2 separate regions of the Homo sapiens genome follow, and region 1 is reported to be linked to region 2. Evidence: microRNA targets listed by miRTarBase, many of them from high-throughput screens and not tested one by one. Region 2 holds a microRNA gene; the other region holds the end of a gene's coding sequence.
What was found. The annotated mature microRNA hsa-miR-324-5p reads CGCAUCCCCUAGGGCAUUGGUG and lies in region 2 at 2,448-2,469, opposite strand. An mRNA with a match to its seed (bases 2 to 7 or 8) in the 3' UTR can be bound and repressed. Matches are read on the target gene's strand: a 7mer-m8 pairs with bases 2 to 8, a 7mer-A1 pairs with bases 2 to 7 and ends in A, and an 8mer does both.

Region 1: the mRNA of RAB1B is a reported target of hsa-miR-324-5p. The part of its 3' UTR that is shown has no 7-base or 8-base seed match.

Annotation. Positions count from the first base shown.
Region 1 is chr11:66,275,438-66,282,660 of GRCh38, forward strand. It overlaps RAB1B (RAB1B, member RAS oncogene family), which reads left to right. Exons shown (of 6, transcript NM_030981.3): 5 at 367-498; 6 at 607-2,055. The coding sequence ends at 801. It overlaps CNIH2 (cornichon family AMPA receptor auxiliary protein 2), which reads left to right and starts at 2,738. Exons shown (of 6, transcript NM_182553.3): 1 at 2,738-3,100; 2 at 6,822-6,890. The coding sequence starts at 3,020. LOC107984340 (a long non-coding RNA gene) reads right to left here and starts at 3,088. Exons shown (of 2, transcript XR_001748274.1): 1 at 3,058-3,088. RefSeq lists a silencer at 2,514-2,843 and an enhancer at 7,009-7,223.
Region 2 is chr17:7,220,896-7,228,338 of GRCh38, forward strand. MIR324 (microRNA 324) reads right to left here and starts at 2,484; the gene lies at 2,402-2,484. It overlaps ACADVL (acyl-CoA dehydrogenase very long chain), which reads left to right. Exons shown (of 20, transcript NM_000018.4): 6 at 29-163; 7 at 643-787; 8 at 1,057-1,186; 9 at 1,282-1,407; 10 at 1,772-1,970; 11 at 2,238-2,342; 12 at 2,749-2,835; 13 at 2,918-2,980; 14 at 3,073-3,174; 15 at 3,251-3,348; 16 at 3,426-3,498; 17 at 3,585-3,657; 18 at 3,747-3,819; 19 at 3,914-3,989; 1 more. The coding sequence ends at 4,202. DVL2 (dishevelled segment polarity protein 2) reads right to left here. Exons shown (of 15, transcript NM_004422.3): 10 at 7,082-7,149; 11 at 6,760-6,888; 12 at 6,509-6,640; 13 at 6,195-6,374; 14 at 5,526-5,744; 15 at 4,447-5,418. The coding sequence ends at 4,970. RefSeq lists an enhancer at 4,061-4,560.

The DNA.
Region 1 (7,223 bases), not on the chromosome of region 2:
ACCCGTTACTCTCTGTTCCTATCTCCCGTCCGCTCTCTCTTTGCTTCTCACATGTGGTTAGGGCCTGCAAGTGTCTCAGGGAGAGAGACAGCTGCAGGGAGCAGAGCTGGCAGGCCCAAGTTGGGGCAGCTGTTGAGGTGTTGGGGCAGCTGGCAGGCTGCTGGGGCTGTTCTGGGTCTCGGATGGAAGAGGGCAGGGAGGAAGGTTCAGCCTGGAGCAGAGGGCTTCCTCTGCATCTCTGCATCGCTGAGCCCAGGACTTAAGGGGCCCGGAGCTGTACTGTTCCCCTCAGAGAAGGTCTTCTCCAGGCCTGGGGTAGGGGTGACAGTTGGGAGCAAAATAACTTTGGCCCCTGGCCCCCTTTAGGAATCCTACGCCAACGTGAAGCAGTGGCTGCAGGAGATTGACCGCTATGCCAGCGAGAACGTCAATAAGCTCCTGGTGGGCAACAAGAGCGACCTCACCACCAAGAAGGTGGTGGACAACACCACAGCCAAGGTAGCAGACGGGCCGGTCTGCCCGGGGTCGGGGCGCTGGGGCCTGCTGCCCCTCACCTGCTCTCCCCTCCTCTTCTCTCCCCTCCTCTTCTCTCCTCTCCCTTGTCAGGAGTTTGCAGACTCTCTGGGCATCCCCTTCTTGGAGACGAGCGCCAAGAATGCCACCAATGTCGAGCAGGCGTTCATGACCATGGCTGCTGAAATCAAAAAGCGGATGGGGCCTGGAGCAGCCTCTGGGGGCGAGCGGCCCAATCTCAAGATCGACAGCACCCCTGTAAAGCCGGCTGGCGGTGGCTGTTGCTAGGAGGGGCACATGGAGTGGGACAGGAGGGGGCACCTTCTCCAGATGATGTCCCTGGAGGGGGCAGGAGGTACCTCCCTCTCCCTCTCCTGGGGCATTTGAGTCTGTGGCTTTGGGGTGTCCTGGGCTCCCCATCTCCTTCTGGCCCATCTGCCTGCTGCCCTGAGCCCCGGTTCTGTCAGGGTCCCTAAGGGAGGACACTCAGGGCCTGTGGCCAGGCAGGGCGGAGGCCTGCTGTGCTGTTGCCTCTAGGTGACTTTCCAAGATGCCCCCCTACACACCTTTCTTTGGAACGAGGGCTCTTCTGTCGGTGTCCCTCCCACCCCCATGTATGCTGCACTGGGTTCTCTCCTTCTTCTTCCTGCTGTCCTGCCCAAGAACTGAGGGTCTCCCCGGCCTCTACTGCCCTGGCTGCAGTCAGTGCCCAGGGCGAGGAATGTGGCCAGGGGATCCAGGACCTGGGATCCAGGGCCCTGGGCTGGACCTCAGGACAGGCATGGAGGCCACAGGGGCCCAGCAGCCCACCCTTTCCTCTCCCCACTGCCTCCTCTCCCTTCCTACACTCCCAGCTCGAGCCGTCCAGCTGCGGTGGGATCTGAGTATATCTAGGGCGGGTGGGCGGGTAGCAGTGCTGGGCCTGTGTCTTGAGCCTGGAGGGAGTCTGCTCCTGCCGCCCTCTGCCCTGCCAGAGACAGACCCATGCGCTGCCTGCCCACCGTGCCCCTTTGTCCCCATGTCAGGCGGAGGCGGAAGGCCCACCGTGCCAGAGGCTGGGCACCAGCCTTAACCCTCACTCTGCTAGCACCTCCTCCCTTTCCCCAAGGTAGCACATCTGGCTCACTCCCCACTCCGTCTCTGGAGCCCACCAGGGAAGGCCCTCATCCCCTGCCGCTACTTCTCTGGGGAATGTGGGTTCCATCCAGGATTGGGGGCCTCTCTGCTCACCCACTCTGCACCCAGGATCCTAGTCCCCTGCCCTCTGGCACAGCTGCTTCCTGCAAGAAAGCAAGTCTTTGGTCTCCCTGAGAAGCCATGTCCCTCGTGCTGTCTCTTGCCTGTCCCACCTGTGCCCTGCCCTCCAGCTTGTATTTAAGTCCCTGGGCTGCCCCCTTGGGGTGCCCCCCGCTCCCAGGTTCCCCTCTGGTGTCATGTCAGGCATTTTGCAAGGAAAAGCCACTTGGGGAAAGATGGAAAAGGACAAAAAAAATTAATAAATTTCCATTGGCCCTCGGGTGAGCTGAGGGTTTTTGCAAGGAAGTTGTGGTGGCCAAGTGTGGTCTGTGGTCTAAGCCCAGCCTTGGGGTGGGGGGATGGAACTGGAACCCTGGGCTTGGTGGGGTGCACGGGGGTCCTGGCTTGGTTTCTGTGTCCTAAGGCTGCTGGCAAAAGCCCTTGACCCCGTTTCCTGAGGCCAGGAAAGCTGCTTGTGCTTCTGTGGTCTGTCCCCAAGGGCCCAGCACCGTTCTGTCAGGGAAAGAGGCAGGCGGCCATCAGCTCATACCTGGCGTGCCGCCGCCAACTCCCGCGGGGCACACGGCAGAGGTGTGGGGTCGCGCAGCCGCTGAGAGGGCCCCCACTGCACCTGGCCCAACCTCCTTCAGCGCCCCCCAAAACCCCACTGCTCCCATTCAGCCCCTGTCCTGGCGTCATTGTGTGTCCCAGCCAGGTGCTTCTGCCGTCTCCGACAGTGACAAGTGCCTCGCACTTCAGCCTTTGCCCTGAGCGCCCGCCCGAGGGGGCCGAGTGCGGCTGTGCCGGTGGCTGGAGTGCCGAGGGGTGCGGGGTGCCGGGGGCGGCCGCGTCTACGCTGTCCGGAGGGTGAACGGCCGCGGGCTTGTCGGGGCTGGGGGTGGCGCCCGAGCCGGGCGGGCAGACGAGGGGCCCGCGGAGACCCAGCCCCGCCCGAGGCCGCTCGCGCGGCGGCCCCGCCCCCGGCTCCGCCCCGCCGGCTTCGCGGGCTGGAGAGCGAGGGAGCCGCGGGCGAGGGATCGCAGGATGAGCGATCGGGGCCCGGGCAGCCGGCAGCGGACGCGCCCCCCGAGCCCACCGGCCCGCGCCCCGCGCCCCCCACGGCCCCGCGGTCCCGGTCCCGGCCGCATCACCCACGTCCCCCGAGCCCCACGGGCCATGCCCGGCCGGCCCTAAGCGCGGGCCGGGGGGCGTCCCCTTGCGCCCGGGCCCCGCGCTGGCGCCCCCCGGGCCGCCGCCCGGCGCGGGGGCCATGGCGTTCACCTTCGCCGCGTTCTGCTACATGCTCACCCTGGTGCTGTGCGCCTCCCTCATCTTCTTTGTCATCTGGCACGTAAGGCCGGGCTGGGGCTGGGGCTGGGGGCGGGGTGGGGGGCAGGGGCCACGCGGAGCTGGAGGGACCCAGGGCGGGTGGTCTCAGAGCCCAGGGGAAACTTGCTATCCCCCAGCCGTCGGCTTGTCGGCTTCGCCCCCATTAACACCCCCCGTGGTCGGCTTTCTTCCCGGGGCCCCCCTTCCTCCGCCGCCCCCGCCTGTCTGTGTGTATGTCAGTCGGTCTCTGACCCCCTCCTCTGCCCTCGTCCTCTGCTCCCATGCAGCCCGTGAGGTGGGGGGTGGAATTCTGGCATTTTTGTTGCTTTATCTTCTATGTCCCCCCCCACCACCATCCAGCCGCCTCCATTAGTCCGTCGGGCAGTTTGTCTGTCTGCTGCCCCCCCCCCCCCGCCTTTGTGGGTTTTTCCAGCCAGAGTGATGGAGCTGGTTGCTATGGCAACTGCATCTGTTTACAGGACCCACAGATCTCAGAGTCCATTAACCCTTTGCCTTCCCAGCCCCCTCCCTGACCAAGCAGCAGTTGGCTCTCATCAGCCCCCAGAGACCTAGCCCCCACCACCGGCTCACCTTGGGTTTCCCTACCCCTCCTGTTGGGGGCTTCCCAGCCCCCCAGGTTTCCTCTCCATTTTCCAGCTTCCCTCCTCTTCCTGTCCCCCTTCCCCTTTGTCTCTCACATACCCCTTGGTCTGTCCCTCGCCCTGGCCTAGCCTCACACCTGGTTCTTCAAAATGTCCATTCCTCATCCTGCATCCGACCCATCGCTTCCCCCAGGCTCCCTCCTCCTCCCCTCCCGCTCCTCTCCTCCAGGGCCTCCTCTGCCTGGCTCCCGTCCCCTCACTACAGAACTATCAATCAGCCTCCAGCTGGTTGTTGGGGGCCCCTGGCCCCACTTTACTGCCCTCCGTCCCCACCCCCACCCAAACCCCGTGCCTGTTTCTGTAACAGCCTGCCCAGCTCGGCCCTGGCTGGCTCAGCTCAGCATCCTCTGCTCACACCTCCCGCGCACACCTCCCTGATTGTCATTCCCTTTCAGGGGTCCTCTTATCCCTCCCTCAATCCCATTTCCCATAGCCCTTCCCTCCTTCCTCCCGGTGCCTCACCTGCTTCTTTCCCGGGCTCTCCACTTCCTCTCTCCTTTCTCTTCCTGGGACCTGCCGCCTGCTCCATGGTTCCCCCTGCGCTCCCTTTGCCATCCCCTGCCACCTTGCTCTTTGACATCGGGAATCCATAGACTGAACCCCTACTGTGTGAAGAGTGAGCCCCCAAAGGCACCTCAGCACACACCCCAGCTCCAGCCCTGTCACTCCTTGGCCTGGCTCTGCTCTCTCTCTGGGTCTTGGTTGCTTTGTCTTTCCCCCTCTCCCCCGCACCCCGAGTTACTCTATTTTTCTTTCTGTGGGGTAGGGGCAGGAGGGCTAGGGTTCTAAGGACTGGAGGGAGCTGGGGGCCACAGGCTAGGGAATGCAGAGCTGACCAGCTCCTGGGAGAAGGGCTCCTGGAATTCAAGAAGCCTCTTTTTGGGGCCTTCCCCACCCAGGGCCTTCCCACAGCCCCTGTGGGGTCCCTGTCCTCAGGGGATCCTCAGCAGTTTATCCACCACGCCTGCATTGATGCTTCCCAAAGATCAGGCTCTGGGTGGCTTTGAGGGGGTCAAGGATGAATAAAACCCAGACTTTGCCCTTGTGGAGTGCCCAGGCTGGGAGGAAAGGCCCAAGCTTTGAAGAAATGTCTTTGTTCATTCAACAGATATTGATTGAGCACCTGTGTGAGGTACTCTGTCCACTCAGCCATTTAGCTGGACAATCTTAGCAAGTCATTTGTCCCAAGTCTGGTTCCTCGCCGGCAAAGTGGACCTGTGCACATCAGAGTGCCTAGTGCGGCCTGCTGGGTGGTAGGGGATAGGAGGCGTGGTCCTCAGTCCACAGCTGCTAAGAACTAGACTCTTAACAGGGCGGGACCCCAGATCCCACTCCAGACCCTCAGCCCAGGCCCCAGTGGTTCCTAGGCAACCCTGGCGGTGAGTGACGCGTGTCAGCTGTCACCATGGGGGATTGTTTGTTCCGGGGGGCTGAGTCAGCGCCAGGCAGCCTGGGGGGTGGGAGGGGTGACGCCCGCCGCCTGCTGGTGGTGCCAGCTCTGGGGTACAGACGGCACCCTTCTGCTCCCTGTGGACCCTGTTGCTGTGCGTGCCAAGTGGCGCTGCCCAGAGTCAATGGGGAGCTGGGCGGGGAGGGGGGATGATCCAGATGGCCTCAGCTCCCTCCAGGAAGCCCATGTTCTTTCTCTCTGAGCCGTCTGGGGCCTGGGATGCCTGGGGGTGGTGGGCCTGCTGCCTCATCCTAGGGCTGGAGCCGACAGGAGGGGACCCCAGCAGGCTCCTCTGCCAGCCCATTTCCCCCAAGTCACCTGTCAGCTCCTTCCCATCCCATCATCCCCTCAAACACTTGCTCCCCTGGAGAGTTTCCACCCGTGAGGACACTGCCGTCTGCCAGACACCCCAACACCTGAAGCCACCTTAGATTTCTGCCTTCACTTCTCAGCCATTTGAACCCTCTGGAGTCTGGCTCCTAAAGAGCTGTAGAATCCCATGCACGCCTTCCGTCTCCACTACAACTCTCCTCACTCAGACCACCATCAGCCCTGCCCCTAACCCTCCAAACCGTCCCCTTGCTGGTCTGGCCTGAGTATGACACAGTGGTTAGGAATTTTAACTCTGGAGTCACACTGGGTTAGAATCCACTAACCAGCCGTGTGGCCCTGGACAAGTCACTTAACCTGCCTCAGCTTCCTCATCTGCAAAACAGACATGAAAATAAAACTAGTACCTAAGTCATAAGGTTGTTAAGAATTAAATGAGTGAATCCACATACCGGCCAGGAGAAGCACCACTTAGATCTCAGCTGTGACTGTCAGTGAGCTCGGATTTCCTGCCCCACCAATCCTGAGACATGGACCAATCCTAAGACATGGACCTGACCACCCCACTCTGCTGCTGTGTACTCTTCAATGCCTCCCCCCAAAATTTTTGTGTTAAAGTAAGTCCAAACTCCTGCTCTGGCCTCACAGGGCGCCCATGTCTGGCTCTGCTGAATTCTCCAGCTCCTCTTCCACCACTCTCTCTTTTCTTCCTGCTCGCTGCGCTGTCACGCCAGCCCCATGAAACCCGCAGCCTCCTGAATGTCTCCTGACCTTTCACCCCTCTGCCATTGCACCTTCTACTGCTTGGACTGCATTTCCCCCATTTGCTCACCAACACCTACTCCGAGTCCAGCCTGAACTCCCTCACCCCCCACACAGGGTTAAGCGCCCACTCCAGGTCCTCCCTGTACCCCAAACCCTGATCACCTGGAAGGCAGAGTGATCATCCCTCTGGGCCTGGGTTCCTCCTGGGCAGGGGCTGCATCCCAGGCCTCTGGAGCCCCAGTGCTCAGCACAGGGCCTGAGACTTGGCAGGGCAGACACGAAGCCATGTCTTGGGATGTTTTGGAAGGGGGTGTAGTGGACATGGGCCTGAACTGGGCATCCAGACGCTAGGGTTCCCTTCTGGACTGTTGTAATGACCTTGGACCAGGCCCTGCTCCTCCCTGGACCTCGGTTTCTCCACCTTTGCAACAAGCTCCACCTGGCTGGTCCTCTTCAGTAAACTATCCCACAGAAGGACTTGGGGGAAGGCCATAAGCTGCTGCCCCAACCCTGACGGGCACACGCCCCTCCCCCAGATCATAGCCTTTGATGAGCTGCGGACCGACTTCAAGAACCCCATCGACCAGGGGAACCCTGCGCGGGCAGTAAGTGATACATGTGCTGTGCCGAGGTGTGTCCGTCCGTCTGTCTTTCCATCTGTCGTGGGCTGGGGGTGGGAGACGGGAAGACGGGGGTGGGGTGGGGGGCCTACGGCCATGCCCCCTTCCTCTCTGTCTCCGCCCCCAGCAAACACCTGGCGCGGGCTCAGGGCTGAGTTCCTCTTGGCGGGGCGGTGGTTGCCAGGCTCTGGGCCGTTGCCATGGAGACGCGGGTGAAGGCCCTTCCATGGTGACGGTCGCCATGGGGACGGCGCGGCTGCTTCCCGGCCGTGCCGACAGTGCCGCAGAGATCGCTCTGGCGCCCCCTGGCGGCCACAT
Region 2 (7,443 bases):
TGGATGTGGGATCCTGTGCCTTCCCCAGGAAGTGAACGATCCCGCCAAGAATGACGCTCTGGAGATGGTGGAGGAGACCACTTGGCAGGGCCTCAAGGAGCTGGGGGCCTTTGGTCTGCAAGTGCCCAGTGAGCTGGGTGGTGTGGGCCTTTGCAACACCCAGGTGAGGGCGCCCTATCGCCACATCCCAGTATGCCATACCCCAGCTTGGCAGACTCAGCTCTTTTGCCATAGACCTAGAGACTAGGGCTAAGGTCTCTTCTAAGCACCTGCCCTGGGTGCCTGTGGGATGGATGTTAACTGTCCAAACATAACACAATTTACATGCAGTCCCCTAGGCCTGAGCCATGGGCCTCACCCTGGTTCCCAAGTCCTTACAAATCTCTAAGTTGGGGATTGCCTAACAATAGACTGACTAGTAGCAAGTCACCCTCCTACCTAGACCTAAGACAGACCAGCATTCTCTGCTGTGCCCTTTGCACACCCCACTTCTTTTCTACACACTGGGGATGGCCCAGGTCAGGCACTGCCCTAGGTCAGGAACTGCCCTAGGTCAGGAACTGCCCTGTTGCCCACACTCTCCTGTTAAGGTCAGGTCCCCCTGCAGCCAGTGACAACCCCAGATTCCTGCTTCCCCTCCAGTACGCCCGTTTGGTGGAGATCGTGGGCATGCATGACCTTGGCGTGGGCATTACCCTGGGGGCCCATCAGAGCATCGGTTTCAAAGGCATCCTGCTCTTTGGCACAAAGGCCCAGAAAGAAAAATACCTCCCCAAGCTGGCATCTGGTGAGGCAACCCTAGGAGAGCCAGGGATTGGGGGGCACACTGGGCTTGGCACAGATTAGGCCAGTTGGCACTTAGATTATCAGATGGCTGAGCATTTCAGTTGGGGGAAGGTTTTGGGGAGGCATCACAGTGTGCTGGTTGGGACATGCAAAAGAACTGGATACTCCCAGGTGTTAAGGGGGAACTGCCTGCTGGAGGGATGGGGAAGTGGGCCGAGGGGACTTTGAAGCTCATCAGAACTTGGGGTAAAGTAGCTCTCTCCCCAACAGGGGAGACTGTGGCCGCTTTCTGTCTAACCGAGCCCTCAAGCGGGTCAGATGCAGCCTCCATCCGAACCTCTGCTGTGCCCAGCCCCTGTGGAAAATACTATACCCTCAATGGAAGCAAGCTTTGGATCAGGCAACCTGCCTCCCATTTCTCCCCTTCTCCTCCGCCCAATTCCAGGCCCCACTGCTCCCCGTCCTCCACGCCCTGAATATCCCATTCTTCCACAGTAATGGGGGCCTAGCAGACATCTTCACGGTCTTTGCCAAGACACCAGTTACAGATCCAGCCACAGGAGCCGTGAAGGAGAAGATCACAGCTTTTGTGGTGGAGAGGGGCTTCGGGGGCATTACCCAGTGAGTGAATTTGGGTTGGGGGAGCTTAGGACTGAGGGGCAGGACTGGGCTCCTGGGCAGATGGCTGTTGCAAGTCACCCTGGGGACGTGTGCAAAAGCCAAAGCAGGTGGACTGAATGTGGCCTTTGGGACTAATATGTATGCAACTGAGCTAAAGTTTTGGCTCCAGCAACCAAGTCCAACACAAAATAGGACATAGCCAGGCCTCCTTAGCCCTCAGGGCCTGAGGGGAAGTGGTGGCTGTAGCCTCTAATAGTCTAGTGGTCGTCATTCCTCCCTGGTGCATAAGGAGCGAAGGAGCAGTTTTTCCCCCAGTGACAACCTGTTGAACACACCTCTGCTTTCCCACACTGCCCTGACACAGTGGGCCCCCTGAGAAGAAGATGGGCATCAAGGCTTCAAACACAGCAGAGGTGTTCTTTGATGGAGTACGGGTGCCATCGGAGAACGTGCTGGGTGAGGTTGGGAGTGGCTTCAAGGTTGCCATGCACATCCTCAACAATGGAAGGTTTGGCATGGCTGCGGCCCTGGCAGGTACCATGAGAGGCATCATTGCTAAGGCGGTGAGTACCCTGCCCGAGTCCCTAGGTAACCCAAACAGAAGTCTCACTGTCCCCCTTGCCATGTGTCCCTGATCACTTGCAGGCACTCCCTACACTAGAAACTCCTCCCCTACCAGCAGCCCGACTTGCTAGCTTAGGTCTCCATCCAGCGTAGACTGAACTCTGGTTGTATGCAAAACCCATCCCTCTGGCGCAAGCCCAGCCCCTCTCCTAGGGAGACTGCAGAACCACACTGAACCACAGCGGGATGTGTGGACCCTCTTCCAGGTAGATCATGCCACTAATCGTACCCAGTTTGGGGAGAAAATTCACAACTTTGGGCTGATCCAGGAGAAGCTGGCACGGATGGTTATGCTGCAGTATGTAACTGAGGTGAGGGCCTCCCAAGCCCCTCTCCCTGGAGCCCTGGGGCTTTCTTCCCAGTCGGGTCAGACTACAACCCCCAGCAGCACCTGGGGCAGTGGGTCTCCAGCTTTACACCAATGCCCTAGGGGATGCGGGGAGGCATAGTCAGCTCAGCTTCTGCGAAGAGAGACAGCAATGATGTTCTGCTCAGGTGCCTGCCAGCAGTACCAGAAGTTAATTCTACCTCATCCCTTACATCCACCCCTTTTAAGAAAACAAATACCTGGAAGCACCTGATGAACTGACCCAGAACAAGTATCTGCCTGACCTGACAAGCTAGGTCAGCCCTTATCTTGGAGATCTGGGTGATGAGGCCAAGTCTGACAAAGCCCTTTGCAATTTTCCTTCCCATGTCCCAACTATGCAACCTCAGTCCATGGCTTACATGGTGAGTGCTAACATGGACCAGGGAGCCACGGACTTCCAGATAGAGGCCGCCATCAGCAAAATCTTTGGCTCGGTGAGGTCCCAGGCATGCTGGGAGGGAGTCCAGTTTGGGTGCTCAGCTCCCAAAACCAGTCTCATCTGTTCTTTGTCCCTAGGAGGCAGCCTGGAAGGTGACAGATGAATGCATCCAAATCATGGGGGGTATGGGCTTCATGAAGGTACAGGACGGTCTTCTGCAGAGCCTCGGCTGGGCCAGGGGTGGGTAGGCACATCTCAGCACGGGCATATAATTTGTGTGGCCCTGTGCTAGGAACCTGGAGTAGAGCGTGTGCTCCGAGATCTTCGCATCTTCCGGATCTTTGAGGGGACAAATGACATTCTTCGGCTGTTTGTGGCTCTGCAGGGCTGTATGGTAAGACAGAGAATTGGGTGGGGGTAGAGGTGGGGAGGACAGTGAGTCCTGACTGCTGGACCCTCTTCCCCCATAGGACAAAGGAAAGGAGCTCTCTGGGCTTGGCAGTGCTCTAAAGAATCCCTTTGGGAATGCTGGCCTCCTGCTAGGAGAGGCAGGCAAACAGCTGAGGCGGTAGGCTTAGGGCCAGAGCCAGGGGAGGGCAGGGTGGTGTATGGCAACTAACCAGTCATTCTCCCTCTTCCTCTCAGGCGGGCAGGGCTGGGCAGCGGCCTGAGTCTCAGCGGACTTGTCCACCCGGAGTTGAGTCGGAGTGGCGAGCTGGTAAGTGGCCAGGGGTCCAGGAGAGCCTGCATCAGGGACTGCAGCCGATGGCCCCTCTGAGCCCCGCACTGTCCCCATCTCTTAAGGCAGTACGGGCTCTGGAGCAGTTTGCCACTGTGGTGGAGGCCAAGCTGATAAAACACAAGAAGGGGATTGTCAGTAAGTGAGCTCTACACCATTCCGCCCCTCCCTTTCCTCTCCTTGAGACTAATGCCCCCACCCCCACCCCCACCCCACCTACCGGACAGATGAACAGTTTCTGCTGCAGCGGCTGGCAGACGGGGCCATCGACCTCTATGCCATGGTGGTGGTTCTCTCGAGGTGAGGAGGCAGGCAGGGAATGCCTGAGCCGCAGGGGGCCTGGGCCTGGATCCCAGCCGGCCCAGATTTATTTTCATCTCCTGCTTCCTGCCAGGGCCTCAAGATCCCTGAGTGAGGGCCACCCCACGGCCCAGCATGAGAAAATGCTCTGTGACACCTGGTGTATCGAGGTGAGACTCGGGGCTGCCAAGCTCAGGTGAGGGCTGGAGGTGCAGGCCCAACCCCTCCTTCCCTCTCCCCAGGCTGCAGCTCGGATCCGAGAGGGCATGGCCGCCCTGCAGTCTGACCCCTGGCAGCAAGAGCTCTACCGCAACTTCAAAAGCATCTCCAAGGCCTTGGTGGAGCGGGGTGGTGTGGTCACCAGCAACCCACTTGGCTTCTGAATACTCCCGGCCAGGGCCTGTCCCAGTTATGTGCCTTCCCTCAAGCCAAAGCCGAAGCCCCTTTCCTTAAGGCCCTGGTTTGTCCCGAAGGGGCCTAGTGTTCCCAGCACTGTGCCTGCTCTCAAGAGCACTTACTGCCTCGCAAATAATAAAAATTTCTAGCCAGTCATGCTTTGCTCCTGTGTGACGGTTCTTTCCCCCTGCTGCCTGCCTCCCTCCCAAAGAAAGGAGCCAGAGGCGTGGGGAGTTTGCCTCTATTGCTTTATTTGGTGTTTTATACAAGTGACTAAAATAAATAGAGTAACAAAGGCAGCTACATGGCCCAAATCTCCCAGCTTCCTCAGGCTGCTGTCTAGGATGCCTAACCCCGGGGTACCGCTGACCACCCCCAACCCTGCAAAGGGCAGGGCTGTGGGTAACTGGAGGAGGAGGTCACATTCTGGGGTTAGAAGGGGCCCAATGGATGGGAATTCTTCATATAAAAGAGGAAATGCCTATTAAAAAAGTCCCAAAAATGTAAGAAACTCTATTTTAACCCCCAAAAAGGCTTATAAAAAAACAAAGCTAAAAATAATCAAAGGTCCCTTGTCTACCCCTGAGGGAAGGGGGAGGAACCAGGCACTGCTGGTGAGAGTCACAGTGGCCACAATCTCCTGTATGGCAGCAGCTGGTAGGCTGAGCCCAGGCACTGTAAGAGCAAGCACATGACGGCCAGGACACCCAGTCACACACCAGGAGCGCCCGGCCCAGCCTGGCCCCACAGTGGGCTACATAACATCCACAAAGAACTCGCTGGGATTGCCCATGGCCATGTGGAAGCTTTGGCGGCTGGCTGTCAGTTCTGGGGGCACAGAGCCCAGGTCTCTGACTGGAGGGGCCCCCGGAGGCTGCACTGCTGGAGGGACTGGAGGTGGAGGTGGGGGCATCATGACCACCATCATGGGGTTGTAGGGGAGGGCCATGCCAGGGGGCGGTCCATAGGGATGGAGCCCTGGGTGGGCTCGGAGATTAGGGGCACCCCCAGTTGAGCCTCTGGATGGAGGAGGGCCCCCATCGCTAGTCCCACTTGCTTCCCCACCCCGCCGAAGGCTGCCCCCTCGGCTGGAGGGCTCAGACTCACTGCCACTGCCGGACTTGGACTCGGGGGCCCGCTCCTCGGGCCTCCCCGTGCGCCCTGCCCCCCCATCACTCCGTGTCGACCCACTGCTCCGGCTGCCTGTGGAGGGAGGGGAGGGGCAACTGAGTCCTCACCCAGGCTCCTCCCTGGCTCCCCTCTCATCCACCCTCAGATCCTGGCCGTACAGGTATGTGGGGATGACTTACCCTCACTATGCTGGCTGCTGGCACTGCCCCCACCATAGGTGTAAGATGAAAGCTCATGGTAGGGTGGAGGCTGCGGGCTGTAGGGGTGTGGGGCAGGGTATTGGTAGGAGAAAGTGGGCAGCAGGGGCCAGGGGGTGGCCCCAGGCAGAGGAGCCAGGGTATCCTGGTCTGAAGCCCCACTGGAGCCATCGTTGTCATTGAGAGACAGGTTGACTAGGTCTGGAAAGCAAGGGAAGAGAGGAAGAAATCACTGCTTCAAGAGGCTAGGGCCCCAAGACACCGAATGGAGAGGAACTGGGAACAGTTCTCCCAGACCCACCCACGATGGGGCTCAAAACAGGGGTTCACAAGGGTCTCTGACAAGAAACTCCCATCTACTTCTGCCATGAGGGCAGGGGCACAGCCACTAGCCCACGTCTTTGCGGGACTCAGGTAAGAGGTGCACCTTCCCCCGGTGGACACAGTCCTGCACCTGGCACATGGCTTGTCCAGCAGCACATGGGTGGACGTCAGCCCCCATCCTCGGCCAGTGCAGGACCTAGTGCGGGACACACACTGCTCGACCATCCATGGTGGCCCTGGCTGCGGTTTCTGGGCTAGGTCTAGGGTTGGAGAGGCAGAACAAGGTAGGCAAAGCCACACTCCCAGAGTTGGGGCAGGGGGACTTACAGCTCTCACAGCCACCACTGAGGTCTCCGAAGACGTAATAGCACTGCTCAGAGAAGGTGATCTTGTTGACGGTGTGTCGGATCAGGCCTGCTTTGAGCAGCCCGCTGGCATACTTGCGGGCCTCCCGCCGCTCAGGAAAGCCCTCCACGTGATGGTAGAGCCAGTCAACCACATCCGAGCCTGGGAGCACCCACAGTGGAAAAAGGCCTCAGGTTCTTCTTCCAACTCCTGCTCTCGCCTCTGCCTGTGCCATTCCTGGCTTTGGTCACCACCTCCTCCCCTTCTCCAGCCACCTGCCCAGGACCCAGCCATACCCAGAAAGGCATTAGGGATGGTGATCTTGAGCCACATGCGGTCCCGGACTTCCAGTCCAGACTCTGGAGCTGCCATGGCCTTGGTCACCGATGCCATGTCCGTATGGACGGAGAGACCCCGGCCTTCACAGCCTGGCAGAGGAGACAACGGGTAACCAGAGTCAGGGATCGCTCCCACAAGGGCAATGGATCAGACCACTGCGGGACAGCCTTCTGCTGGGAGGGTGGGATGAGGTGGGCTGGCGGCTCACCATCAGGCAAAGACGATCCAGATGTAATGGTGCTCATGGAGGAGGAACCTGGATAGGCTGGGAAGGTGCCAGTCAGAGCCGCGGAATGGGACACCCAGGCAGCAGGGTCAATTGGCTGGATGGGCTCATCTGGGACAAAGATGGCACCAAAATGACCCATTCTCAGTCCCCAAAAGCCAGCCCAGTCCCTCCCTGACTCAGCCTCCTGTTCCACCTCTGCCTGGACCCTCCTCCCACCCATTCCCCATGACCACAGGCCCGGCCCCAGCCTCCTGGGCAGCCCCCACCCCCAACTTCAGGCCCCTCCCTGAGTGTCACTCACTTCGGGGGAGAGTGAAATAGGCCTGAGGAGAGGGATCCCAGCACTTGGCCACAGTCAGCACAATGGGGCTATGGGGAAGAGAAGTCCAGTCAAGGGCGCAGGGGAAGAGGAGGCCTCAGGAGGGCGGGGGTCTGAAGCAAGGATGGATTAAGAGACACAAAGAGGGGGAGAAGCAAGCACATCGCGGCTGGGCTAGAGAAGGTGAGGGTGGAAGGCACCACAATGTGGATGACTCATCAACATGGAAAACTCTTAAAAACATACTGCCAAGTGAGACAAGAGAGTACACGCTGTACAGTTCCATTCACAGAAAGTCCAAAAACAGGTAAAACGAAACTGCAGTGTTCAAGGATACGTGCAAG